3 separate regions of the Homo sapiens genome follow, and regions 2 and 3 are each linked to region 1. The links come from fine-mapping of genetic effects on gene expression. A gene starts in region 1. Each other region holds a variant in brackets. All regions are shown on one strand. Distances are between the middles of the regions. Region 1 holds the start of TMTC1 (transmembrane O-mannosyltransferase targeting cadherins 1). Region 2 overlaps TMTC1 (transmembrane O-mannosyltransferase targeting cadherins 1). Region 3 overlaps LOC105369715 (a long non-coding RNA gene).

What was found. PIP is the estimated chance that this variant, and not a neighbour inherited with it, causes the effect. A credible set is the group of variants that fine-mapping cannot tell apart.
Region 2: its variant is the best candidate, but not a certain one, in a credible set for the expression of TMTC1 in whole blood (INTERVAL, PIP 0.63).
Region 3: its variant is the best candidate, but not a certain one, in a credible set for the expression of TMTC1 in tibial artery (GTEx, PIP 0.78).

Annotation. Positions count from the first base shown.
Region 1 is chr12:29,781,491-29,785,490 of GRCh38, forward strand. TMTC1 (transmembrane O-mannosyltransferase targeting cadherins 1) reads right to left here and starts at 2,452. Exons shown (of 18, transcript NM_001193451.2): 1 at 1,960-2,452. The coding sequence starts at 2,261.
Region 2 is chr12:29,582,709-29,587,061 of GRCh38, forward strand. It overlaps TMTC1 (transmembrane O-mannosyltransferase targeting cadherins 1), which reads right to left. Exons shown (of 18, transcript NM_001193451.2): 8 at 699-866. Among named protein-coding and RNA genes, the nearest start is that of OVCH1, 87 kb to the left of the region's middle. The variant T/A (reference allele first, on the strand shown) is at 1,733.
Region 3 is chr12:29,957,648-29,962,000 of GRCh38, forward strand. The region is part of intron 3 of LOC105369715 (a long non-coding RNA gene); the gene reads right to left. Among named protein-coding and RNA genes, the nearest start is that of TMTC1, 180 kb to the left of the region's middle. The variant T/C (reference allele first, on the strand shown) is at 2,503.

The sequences.
Region 1 (4,000 bases):
ACCCCTCCCTTATGTGCCTGCTGTCTCCATTATGAAGAAAAATAAAACATTTTAGGTGAGGTACAGTAGCTCATGCCCACAAGTCCAGCACACTGGGAGGCTGAGGCTTAAAGATCGCTTAGCCCAGGAGTTCAACACCAGCCTAGACAACATAGGAAGACCCCATATCTACAAAAAAAATTTTAAAATATATCTGGATGCACGGCATGTGCCAGTAGTAGTTCCAGCTACTTGGGAGGCTGAGGCAGGAGAATTGCTTATGCCCAGAAGTTTCAGGCTACAGTGAGCAATAATCATGCCACTGCACTCCAGGCTGGAGGACAGAGTGAGATCCCATCCCAAAAAAGAAAAAAAGAGAAAAGACAGAGAAAAAAGAAGAAAACCTTCTAGAAAGTCAAGAAGTGAAAACACCCTTCCCTACTCTCCAGCAAGTAGGCACAGGCATTTGACTCTGCCCTTTTTAATTGAAAAATACTCAGACCTGTGACCAGGATGGTCTCCATGGCTGTTACAAAGATAGCAAGCACATCTCATGCTGTGAACTTGCACATCCTAAATTAACCAACAACCCTGACTGTAATAATGAAAAAGCAGGTCAATCTAGAAGTGAAACATTTATATTTGTCCCAAGGAGATTTTAAGAAACATCTGGGAAACTGAATAGCGAGGTTAGCCAAGGTTATCTTTCAGTAGAAAACGAGAACAACTTTCTAAGAGAACAAATGTCTATAACACATTCTCTTCAAAGTCAAATATGTAATTTTCTCACTCTCCTTAAAAACATTAAACTTTCAGTGGAAGACGTAAGTCAAAAGCCCATGAATTGTTGCCGATTGCTATGGTTTCCTTTTCTGAGTCATCAGAGACACCTGTCAAGAGGCCTCAGCCTCTCATCCAGAGCAGGCTTTTCAAGCTGCCAACCCAGTCTCAAATAATCATTACCATAAACACGGGTTCCTATTACACCCGTTGCAAAAAGGCTTAAAACGCCGATAATAGCGCACCAATATTATTTCAACAGTTTTGACCGGCGCGTTAAAATGAACTTCAATGCTGAGCCACATTATAAAGGGTTGAGTCAAGCTCCTGATTGTGTAAGATAGCATTTCCCTTAAATGAGCACTTCTCTTCTTTCCTCAGAAGCTAGGCTTCTTTTCAAATTAAAGAAAATACTCCACCCCTCAAAAACCTGGCATATTCTCGGTTCCCTTTACGCTTATTCACACCAGAAACGCTGAATCATGACTCCGAGGTTGTAAAAGAAAAACTATTTCGGCTGGGGCCCCAGGGTCCCTGGAGAAGCCTAGGCTCTGCGTTACCTCTCTCTGCACCTTCTAAAGTCTAGATCCAGAGAAGTCTGGCAGATTGGAGAGCCTCTGGGAGCAGCCAAGGGTGCAAGGCGGGGGCTGGGGGGCTCGGGAGAGTTTTCTGCTCCCTCTCCTGAACCCACGCAGCCCTGTCAGCTCAAGGCTCCCGCCTCGTCTCATCTGAACGAAACCCTTAAGGGGCTGATACACTTCTCATCTGCAAAGCTGCCCAACAGCCTCCGAGAAATTCTCTACTTGGAAGCATCGCCACCACCGCCACCCCTCCGGAACCCTCTGGGTCCGCGCTAGTCCCACTTGGTCACGATCCGGCAGGCGAAGGGGTGCGGAGGCGGTTTCACCAGCCCGCTCCCAGCCCTGCCTCGAGAGAGAAGCCCGCTGAGAGGGCAGACAGTTGAGAAACTCGATCCCAACTCCCCAGCCGGCGCCTCCCGAACCGCCCCGAGAGCCCAGATTAGCCGGGCAGTGGATCCCGGAGCAAAGTGCCATGCACATCCTGGAGAGGAGGGAGGCGTGGAGGGAAAGGGCGGCAAAAATGAAATGCCCCCAAGTCAGTCCCGCAACTTCTCCCGGTCCGAGGGACGGGCGGAGGGTAGAGGAGGCAGCGGCGGCTAGCGCGAGGTGAGGGACTCACTTGAAGGTGAGGACGCAGAGCGGCCGGTAGGACTTGTGGCTGGTGTTCTCGGCCATGCCCTTGCCCCAGAAGTCGTTGGTGAAGATGCCCCAGCGGAGCGGGGCGCCGGGCCGCACGTCGGGGTTGTTCACGATCGCCCACACGTCGTCGTGCACGAACTCGCCCTGCAGGGAGCGGCCGTAGCACAGGCAGCTTGCCCCGGCCAGCAGCGCCGCGGCCCCGGCCGGCGCTAGCCCGCAGCCCCGCCGCCGGGAGGGTGTGCGGTCCCCGCCGCCGCCTCGGGCAGAGGTGGTCACCACCATCGCGCCGCCGCCGCCGCTGCTGCCCTGGCCTCTCCCGGGCGTCTGGCATCCTCCCCTACCGGGGCCCCGGCGGCGCGCGGCGTCTGCCCGGAGGGGGGCTCGGGCATGGTGCTGCGGCAGCTGGACCCGCCGCGAGCTCCCCGCGCTCCGCCGCCGCCTGCGCCGCGGAGTTGGCCCAGCTGCAAATAAACAGCAGTCCCCCCGCCTCCCCCGGCCATCGCCACCTCCTCCGCCCCACTGCGCATGCCCGCTCGCTCTCTCTTCCACCGCCCCCCAATCCCGGGACGCGGGCCGGTTCCCCCGCACAGCCCGGCGCCCTCTGCCCCCGGCCCGCCTTGCTTGCAGGTGGACCGGGGTTCGCGGCGCGCGGCTGCCCGGGAGCTGCGGGGAAGGACACCCCAGGTTCCCACTTGCGGTGTCCGGCTGTGCTCACCCCCACGCCCCCGCCCCCATCCTTCTCCCCCGAATGGGGCTGGGAAGGGGCACATCTGGCGGACCCCTCCCGGGGGACCCAGGAGGGTTTAGCAGGTGCGCAGTCTGGAACCCCCACACCCACCTTCCAGGGAGAAAAGTGCCGCTGCTTCCCGGGAAGTTCCCGGCTTTTCAGCACCCGGGACAACAGCAGCGGCGCCCGGAGAGACGCTCTCCACCCGCCCCGCGCTCGCGTCCAGTCGCCGGCTCTGTGCTCTCCTGCCCGGGCTTTCTCTCACCCGCCCGGCGCGGCGTCCCGCTTGGCGGAGGAACCCGCGGGGATAGGGAGCACCTTCCTCAAAGCCAGGAGAAGGGGTCTCCCTGGACAAGGACATCCTGCTCGCCCTGCCCGGGTGTGTTCAGAGGCGCCACCGGCTCTTTAACTTTACAGCCCCTTTCTTGGCCCGCACTTACAAAAAGTACCAGGTTCGAGTTTTGGTTTGGGCCTGGGAGCCGAATTGTCTTCTGAAACATTTCTTATTTTATTGTTTGCTCAAGATAATTTGGGAGATGCCAAGCAAACTACTTTTTCTATCTAGCTGGATCACTTGGGTCTCATTATTTCCTGGGCTGTGGGCGTGTTTGAACAGGGCGGGGAAGAAGGTGGGGATGGGGGGATGGGGAGGTGGGGGCGATTTGTATTAGGGCCTCTGGCTTTGGCTCCTAAACTTCCTGTCTTTCTGAAAGATTGTTTTCTTTTTTAAAATACTAATTTTAATAATATGTCCCAGAGTGATGATTACTAGAATTTCTCCAGGTCTGAAAATTCTATTTGTTCTTTCAGGCACCTTCTAAATTTCCATTGCTGAGTGTTAGAAGTTATCAGGAATTTGACACATCCAGATAGAAAAACTGAAAATAAAAAGTCACCCTTTTATTCTCATCCTCCCCAAACCCTTAAAAAGCTCACCGACATAATCCAGAAATTGTTCCTCTGCTATGAGTATTTGTGTGGCTCTTTACTATAACAACTTACTTTTTAAAAAATTTTAAGACATCTGAGCAGTTGAAAAGTCAATGAATTAAGATAAACTTATTGTAACTCAAAGTACGTTTCACCCATTTTCACTTTGTTTATTTGGTGACTTGAAATTAGTGACTGAGAAATGAAACTGGAAGTCCTGGACATGGATGTTTTCATTCTTCCATCAAAATCTTTCACGCTTGGTAACCTTAATATACCGACTTTAATATCTAGACACACCTGAGTCTATTTCCCCGTATAACACACTACAGCCTTTCCTATTCACCTATTAACTTAATAAAAA
Region 2 (4,353 bases), 200 kb before region 1:
GGGTACCAGCTAATCAGGAAACCAAGAAAAAAATCATGGTGACTAAATTGACCAATCAGGTCATAAGTGAGGACAGAAGCTTGGAAGAGGCCCAGACTGGGGATTCCTGGAAGACTGGGCAAATATTGTTTGGGTGTCAGGTGTGGCAGTGCCAAGAGAGCCAGGCGAAGGTCGCCAGGGCTGCGGCATTTAGTGAGGCTGACTAAGCCCCAGAAACACAGCATCATGAATGGCAGTCTCAAAGAATGTTCAAAATTAATGTTCAAAATAAAGCAACTAGGTCACAGATCACAGCGTATCATGCTGGAATATTCTAAAGAAGGATACTGCATTTCTCTTCCCTCTGGCTGTGTGCTCACTTTTCACATGCACTTCTTGGTTTCATTTTGTTTATAGCTGATTTTACAGCCCTGCTCATCATTAAAACTGTTTCCATCTGAATTCACAGACTCAAAAACTTTCCCAGGAGCCTTATTTTCATAAATTCACTTAGAAAGAGCTCATGTTAAGTTTTATATATCATTTTAAAAATCTAAAGTTAAAACCCCACATAAAATTACATCTTCCATTTAAAACTTTATTAAAGATAATTTTCCTTAGTAAATACTGCCAGGCCCATGTTACCTCATTTGTTTGGAAACAATTTGTAAGCAAAGAAATAAACAGGAAGATATTTATTTTTATCTGTCTAGTCATACCTGAATAGGGACTCTCTTGACAGCCAAATTTCATTCTGTTTCACAGTTTTCCAAGAGAAAAGCAACAGCAGCAACACAGTGGACACAATCAGGGTGGTGGCCCCACATCGATTCAGCCAAGTGCAGAGCTTGCTCAGTCCATGCACAAAAAGGATGCAGTAGCCCATGCTGGAAAACAGGGTGGAAGGAACGGGATTACTTTGGGGGTGCAATAGCTTCCCCCCAGAATTATCTCCTACAAAACTAACTTTCAAATGAAGCTTGTCCTGTGCTAGAGAAACAAATAGAAACTCCCCTGCCTTGGACAATATTAACATGTTAGTTCTCTAAAGTGCTGCACTAGCAGGTTTGCTATTTCTTGTAGAAATATTTCTTGCTATTTCTTCAGTGTAGGGAATGAGAGAGTCATCTTGTAGGCTTAAAGTGCCCTGGATTTCAGCAGCTGAGGCATCATGAGAAGTCCCACATATAAGCTCTTGGGTCCTGAATGGCTCCTCTGACCCAAGCTCCCTCATGTCACTGTCATTGTATGACTCTATTGGCACTATGCGCCTAAATTCGGAGTTTATGCTGCAGCAGGTCACACCACAGCTTTGTAGGGAGAGTGTCTGAAAGCTCTGTGTCAGGTCCTGGAAGGATGCTGGTCACCAAGGAGGACTGTTCTCTGTTTCCAGGGCCAGCTGAAGCCCTTACACTTTGGAAAATCTACCCACAGGCCGACTCCTGAGCCTCACAACTTGGAGCTCATCACAGACAAGATGCATTGATATGCCTAGCTGTACCGGTAGGTGCAGGGTTAACATGTTATCTGAGTAGCACTTTGTATATCAGCATTACGTCTCTAAAAGCCTTTGGCTTGGTGCTACATGGTCCCTCACATCATCTATGCACCAACAGAGATACTTTCTGCCTGCCACTTGGACACAGAAGAATATAAACTTGTAGTTTGTACCCATTAATGCTGTATGTATTTTAGTTGAAATCTATTTTTATTTTATTTTATTTTTTCTTACTTCTTCTTTTATTCTTTTTTT[T/A]AAATTTTATTATTATTATACTTTAAGTTTTAGGGTACATGTGCACAATGTGCAGGTTTGTTACATATGTATACATGTGTCACGTTGGTGTGCTGCACCCATTAACTCGTCATTTAGCATTAGGTATATCTCCTAATGCTAGCCCGCCCCGCTTCCCCGACCCCACAACAGTCCCGGTGTGTGATGTTCCCCTTCCTGTGTCCATGTTGTCATTGTTCAGTTCCCAGCTATGAGTGAGAACATGCGGTGTTTGGTTTTTTGTCCTTCTGATAGTTTGCTGAGAATGATGGTTTCCAGCTTCATCCATGTCCCTACAAAGGACATGAACTCATCATTTTTTATGGCTGCATAGTATTCCATGGTGTATATGTGCCACATTTTCTTAATCCAGTCTATCATTGTTGGACATTTGGGTTGGTTCCAAGTCTTTGCTATTGTGAATAGTGCCACAATAAACATACGTGTGCATGTGTCTTTATAGCAGCATGATTTATAATCCTTTGGGTATATACCCAGTAATGGGATGGCTGGGTCAAATGGTATTTCTAATTCTAGATCCCTGAGGAATCGCCACGCTGACTTCCACAATGGTTGAACTAGTTTACAGTCCCACCAACAGTGTAAAAGTGTTCCTATTTCTCCACATCCTCTCCAGCACCTGTTGTTTCCTGACTTTTTAATGATCGCCATTCTAACTGGTGTGAGATGGTATCTCATTGTGGTTTTGATTTGCATTTCTCTGATGGCCAGTGATGATGAGCATTTTTTCATGTGTTTTTTGGCTGCATAAATGTCTTCTTTTGAGAAGTACCTGTTCATATCCTTTGCCCACTTTTTGATGGGGTTGTTTGTTTTTTTCTTGTAAATTTGTTTGAGTTCATTGCAGATTCTGGATATTAGCCCTTTGTCAGATGAGTAGGTTGCAAAAATTTTCTCCCATTCTGTAGGTTGCCTGTTTACTCTGATGGTAGTTTCTTTTGCTGTGCAGAAGCTCTTTAGTTTAATTAGAACCCATTTGTCAATTTTGGCTTTTGTTGCCATGGCTTTTGGTGTTTTAGACATGAAGTCCTTGCCCGTGCCTATGTCCTGAATGGTATTGCCTAGGTTTTCTTCTAGGGTTTTTATAGTTTTAGGTCTAACATGTAAGTCTTTAATCCATCTTGAATTAATTTTTTGTATAAGATGTAAGGAAGGGATCCAGTTTCAGCTTTCTACATATGGCTAGCCAGTTTTCCCAGCACCATTTATTAAATAGGGAATCCTTTCCCCATTGCTTTTTGTCAGGTTTGTCAAAGATCAGATAGTTGTAGATATGCAGCATTATTTCTGAAGGCTCCATTCTGTTCCATTGGTCTATATCTCTGTTTTGGTACCAGTACAATGCTGTTTTGGTTACTGTAGGCTTGTAGTATAGTTTGAAGTCAGGTAGCGTGATGCCTCCAGCTTTGTTCTTTTGGCTTAGGACTGACTTGGAAATGTGGGCTCTTTTTTGGTTCCATATGAACTTTAAAGGAGTTTTTTCCAATTCTGTGAAGAAAGTCATTGGTAGCTTGATGGGGATGGCATTGAATCTATAAATTACCTTGGGCAGTATGGCCATTTTCACGATATTGATTCTTCCTACCCATGAGCATGGAATGTTCTTCCATTTCTTTGTATCCTCTTTTATTTCATTGAGCAGTGGTTTGTAGTTCTCCTTGATGAGGTCCTTCACATCCCTTGTAAGTTGGATTCCTAGGTATTTTATTCTCTTTGAAGCAATTGTGAATGGGAGTTCACTCATGATTTGGCTCTCTGTCTGTTATTGGTGTATAAGAATGCTTGTGATTTTTGTACATTGATTTTGTATCCTGAGACTTTGCTGAAGTTGCTTATCAGCTTAAGGAGATTTTGGGCTGAGATGATGGGGTTTTCTAGATATACAATCATGTCATCTGCAAACAGGGACAATTTGACTTCCTCTTTTCCTAATTGAATATCTTTTATTTCCTTCTCCTGCCTGATTGCCCTGGCCAGAACTTCCAACACTATGTTGAATAGGAGTGGTGAGAGAGGACATCCCTGTCTTGTGCCAGTTTTCAAAGGGAATGCTTCCAGTTTTTGTCCATTCAGTATGATATTGGCGTGGGTTTGTCATAGATAGCTCTTATTATTTTGAGATACATCCCATCAATACCTAATTTATTGAGAGTTTTTAGCATGAAGGGTTGTTGAATTTTGTCAAAGGCCTTTTCTGCATCTATTGAGATAATCATGTGGTTTTTGTCTTTGGTTCTGTTTACATGCTGGATTACGTTTATTGATTTTCGAATGTTAAACCAGCCTTGCATCCCAGGAATGAAGCCCACTTGATCATGGTGGATAAGCTTTTTGATGTGCTGCTGGATTCGGTTTGCCAGTATTTTATTGAGGATTTTTGCATCAATGTTCATCAAGGATAGTGGTCTAAAATTCTCTTTTTTTGTTGTGTCTCTGCCAGGCTTTGGTATCAGGATGATGCTGGCCTCATAAAATGAGTTAGGGAGGATTCCCTCTTTTTCTATTGATTGGAATAGTTTCAGAAGGAATGGTACCAGCTCCTCCTTGTAACTCTGGTAGAATTCGGCTGTGAATCCATCTGG
Region 3 (4,353 bases), 180 kb after region 1:
TAATTAGAAAATCTCCAACTGATTGGAAGTTAAAAGCACATGTCTACATTTCATCATTAGTTCAAGTAAGAATCATGTTGGAAATTAGAAAATACTTTAAAGGAAGTGAAAATGAAGATGCAACATACTAAAATTGTTAAAGTGTAGCTAAAGAAGTGCTTAGAGTGAAATTTTAGTATTAAATGCATGTTAGAAAAGACAAAAGACTAAATTGGTGATTTGAAATTCCGTTTCAAGAAAATAAAAAAGATACAGCAAATCAAGCCCAAAGAAAGTAGACAAAGAGTAATAATAATAATAAATAAAATAAGAAATAACAATAATAATTCCTCTATCCTAGAAATGTATTTTAAAAGGCTGTATGTAAAATGGTTGGCACAGTGCCAGAAGCATAGTTAGGCTGCAATACACATTAGTTAGTTATTTTTATTACCAGCACAGCAACAAGAAAAATGGAAAGATCCATCTCATTTCTCTTCAGGGGCAACATGTGCTTTTGACAGTGTCTGTTTTCGTTGTGATATCCTCTTCCTAGTGGAAAATCAGCTCACAGAGCTTCTGGTGGAAATTTTAAGTGAGCATGGGAAGGAACAAGTGGAACTAACATTTATTGCCTCCTTCTATGTGCCAGACACTCTGCTAGGCACACTGCTCATGTTCTTTTATTCCACCCTTACAAGAACCTAGAGAGGTAGAGATTCATCAGCACATTTCACTTTGGCCACTGAGGCTTCTAGAGGTGAAGCATCTAACCCATCATTCAGCTGGTGAGGGCAGAGGCCGGATTTAGCCATCCGCCTGAGCTTAAACCCAGGGACATGCATGAAACTGAATCATCAAAGTATCCCTTTAGCTATGAGGTAAATGAATCCTGGCTAAATCAGTATATTCTTAGCTGCCTTCCCTTTTGGGTCCCAACCTGGGAGCATTGTTTTTATGCTTCCCTCAATCCCAAAAGCATTTAACATATATATTTGTGTGCATTTTGGAGTGACGTTGGCTTGGGACTAATCTTCCTCCAGCCCACCTCCAGACACTCACAGCAGCAGAGAACTGGCCCTTCATATGCAGGAGCAAGGCACAGTGTGGAAGGTGTCCTGCTGCCTGGGTGCAGAGCAGTGACCTCACCCAGCTGATGATAAAGGTATGAAGAGTCATTCCAATAGAGCAGGAGTGAAGGGGAGACACTCAGGACTAACGTTTCCTCAGGACCTACTCTGTTCCAGGCCACATGTGAGGTCTGTGTGTGAGCTGCATCTCCATGTCTGCTTCTCTATGACTAGACAGGGTCAGAACTTTCCATCTTTCCATTCCTCAGTTTCCAACTGGGGGGAGAGATGTTAAAGGTGGCTGAAGTTTGACTACGCACACAACATAGAGTGAGCACCCCACATCCTCCCATTGTTGCTACAGTGACCCGAATCTGATACTGTAATCCACTGGGGGTGGGAGGGCATGCAGGTAATCGATCACTTAATGGTAATTATAGTAAGTGTGATCTTCAGATTGAAAAAACAGAATTGTTCTTCAACACCACATAGTATGAATCTGTCCCCATACAGTTCTGTGTGGCTTCTGTAAAAGGTCAAAAGCTATAAAAAGCCAATAAACTGGATGCTATATTTCCATTGCATTGGCCAGAGATGTGATACACAGCCTATTATCCATTTTTTCTTTCTGTATGAAGAACGCATTCAGACTATATAGTAGAGTTATTAGAGAAAACGGATGCTTTAAGAAGATACCCTTCATCAGACTGTTTAGAATTTAAATCTCAAAATTTGGTATTTTAGAAAAGTACTAATATCTAATTTAATCAATAAGTTCATCTGTCAGACAAAAGAAAGCAATAATCTTTTTTGATTGAAAGCGACTTTGTTTTGTGATCCAGCCCCTCCTTCTACCACAAAAGAAAGACAACCAAGATGTAGTAATCTAGAGGGCTTCCCAGCATGCCAGGGTTGCTGCTGCCAAGCCCATGACCAAATCCTTTTATTTCTGCTACTGGCATTTCCTAAATTCTCCCCAAATGTCAATATTTTTACAAAACAAGCTATGTGCTGTCACTTTAAATAAATGTGTTAACAGCCTTAAATAGAAAGCTAAACACTTTATCTAAATTGATAAACTAACAAGTCATCATAACCAAAAGAAAATGTGAAGAAGCTGCTTTTGCTAAATTTCTTGTTCTTAAGACAGAGCCAGGGAACTGAGATGGTGCAAATGCTTTTAGTCATTCAACACATGAGAAAGAAGATTCACTGCTGATAACCAAAGGCAAAATTCCCTCTGAAACCCTCTGAAATATTTACTGGAAAAATTTGCACCGTGTGATCATAATCTAATTTCTAGTAATTGCTCCTTCTATAAAATCTATGATGGAGCTGTTCCTGGTCCCAGTACCCAGCTTTCAGAGATGTGACCTTTTGGAAGTCTCTGGGGGAAACACAGAGAGTGGGATGTAGAGGGTTGCTAGCAAAACATTGGGAAATATTTTATTTA[T/C]GTCATGATAGACATTTGGATTCATGGGACCAAGAGCATGATTATTTCTCACCTAACCAAAGGTGGACAATCAGAACAGAATTTTTATACGAAAGAAAAATTTATCTTGCCATTGCAACATTTCCCAGTGCCATGGTTCCCCCCCACCACCTCCTCTCATCACCAAGGCAACCAGAGTTATTATGGAAAGTCAGCCAGCCACTGTGCCCTTGGCTCACATTTCCACAGAGAAGTTTTTTTTTTTTTTTTCCTTCGTTAGCTCTTAGCATCTTGATACACTGTCTGTTATCAAGCATAAAATGATCAGGAGAATCCTACTTAGTAGTGTTTCTCAGAATGTAGTCTCAACCCCACTTACATCAGCATCATGTGTGAGGCTTACGAATGCTGATCCCCAGATCCCTTCCCCAGACCCGTTATATCATTGAGGGGCCTAGGGATATGCATTGTAACAGGCACTCCAAGTGATACTTAAGGCTCTAAAATGTAATAACTGCTGATATAAGGGAAAGGTCATAGAGGATTATAATTCCTTACCTATTCATGCTGTTTAACTGATAAGGAAATGCAGCTTTCTAGAGGGAAATCACATTGCTTTATGCCGGAGCAATTTATACTTTTAACCGCTTGTCTTGTTGAACCAGGATCCCTGGTTCCACCCAGTGCCAACTGAACACTCTTAACAAAAGTCCTGAGAGTCATTAGTGTGTTGTCCTCGATACCACATAGGGCAGAGATTAAAAAGCACATTTCACTTCAGCCACTGAGGTTCCTAGAGGTGAAGCATTTAACCCGTCATTCAGCTATGAGGGCAGATCCAGGATTTAGACAGCCACCACCCTAAGTCTAAACCTAGGGACATGCACTAAACTGCATCATCAAAGCATCCATTTAGCTGTGGGGTAAATGCAACCTGGCTAAATTGGGATATTCCTAACTGCCTTCTCATCCAGGTCCCAATGTCAGAGCATTGCTTTTATGCTTTTCCTCAGCCCTGAAAGAACGTAGCACATATATTTGCACACACTTTCAAGTGGCCCTGGCTTGGGACTTGTTTTTTCTCAGCTCACCTCACACACTCCTGGCACAGAACTGGCCACACATATGCAGAAGCAAGGAACAAGGACAGGTGTCCTGCTGCCTGAATGCAGAGCAGTGACCACACTGAGCTGATGATAAAGAAATCAAGAGCTATTCCAAAAGGAGTGAAGGAGAGGGACTCAAGAATAACATATCCTCAGGACCTACTCTACACCATGAATCATCAACGATTCAGGGCATTCTTTTCTCTGACTTCAGACCAAAGTGGGCCTGTGGCTGACTGGACAGAGTACGTACTGAAGTGTTATGTACTTGTATAGCCATTCAACCATTTTTATTGTATTTATTTTTTTCAATACATATGGCCTAGAGATTTCAGATGTTATTAATACGGAAAAACGACCATTAGACTTTGTTACCTATAACATTTACCTGGCCAATTAAGACAGTATTTTAGTTTACTACATTTTCTTTCTGACATCTGCTAATCCAGTTCAAATAGTTAATATGATACTCCTTACAGATGGAGTCTAAAACCATATTTGGCTTCTGGTTTTCTTTAATTATTTATTACATAGTCAAAATAAATGCATTAGGAAGTTTTAATGCAATCTGATACTATCCCAGAGGTGATCTGTATTGTCACAGTGAACAGTCATTCATATTATTAAGAAATTGCATAATCTTTTTCTGAAATTAAAAAAAAATTACAGGTACATAGTAGGTATATATTTTTATGGGGTACACGAAATACTTCGATACAGACCTGCAATAAGTAATAATCACATCATTTTATATGATTTTGAAATA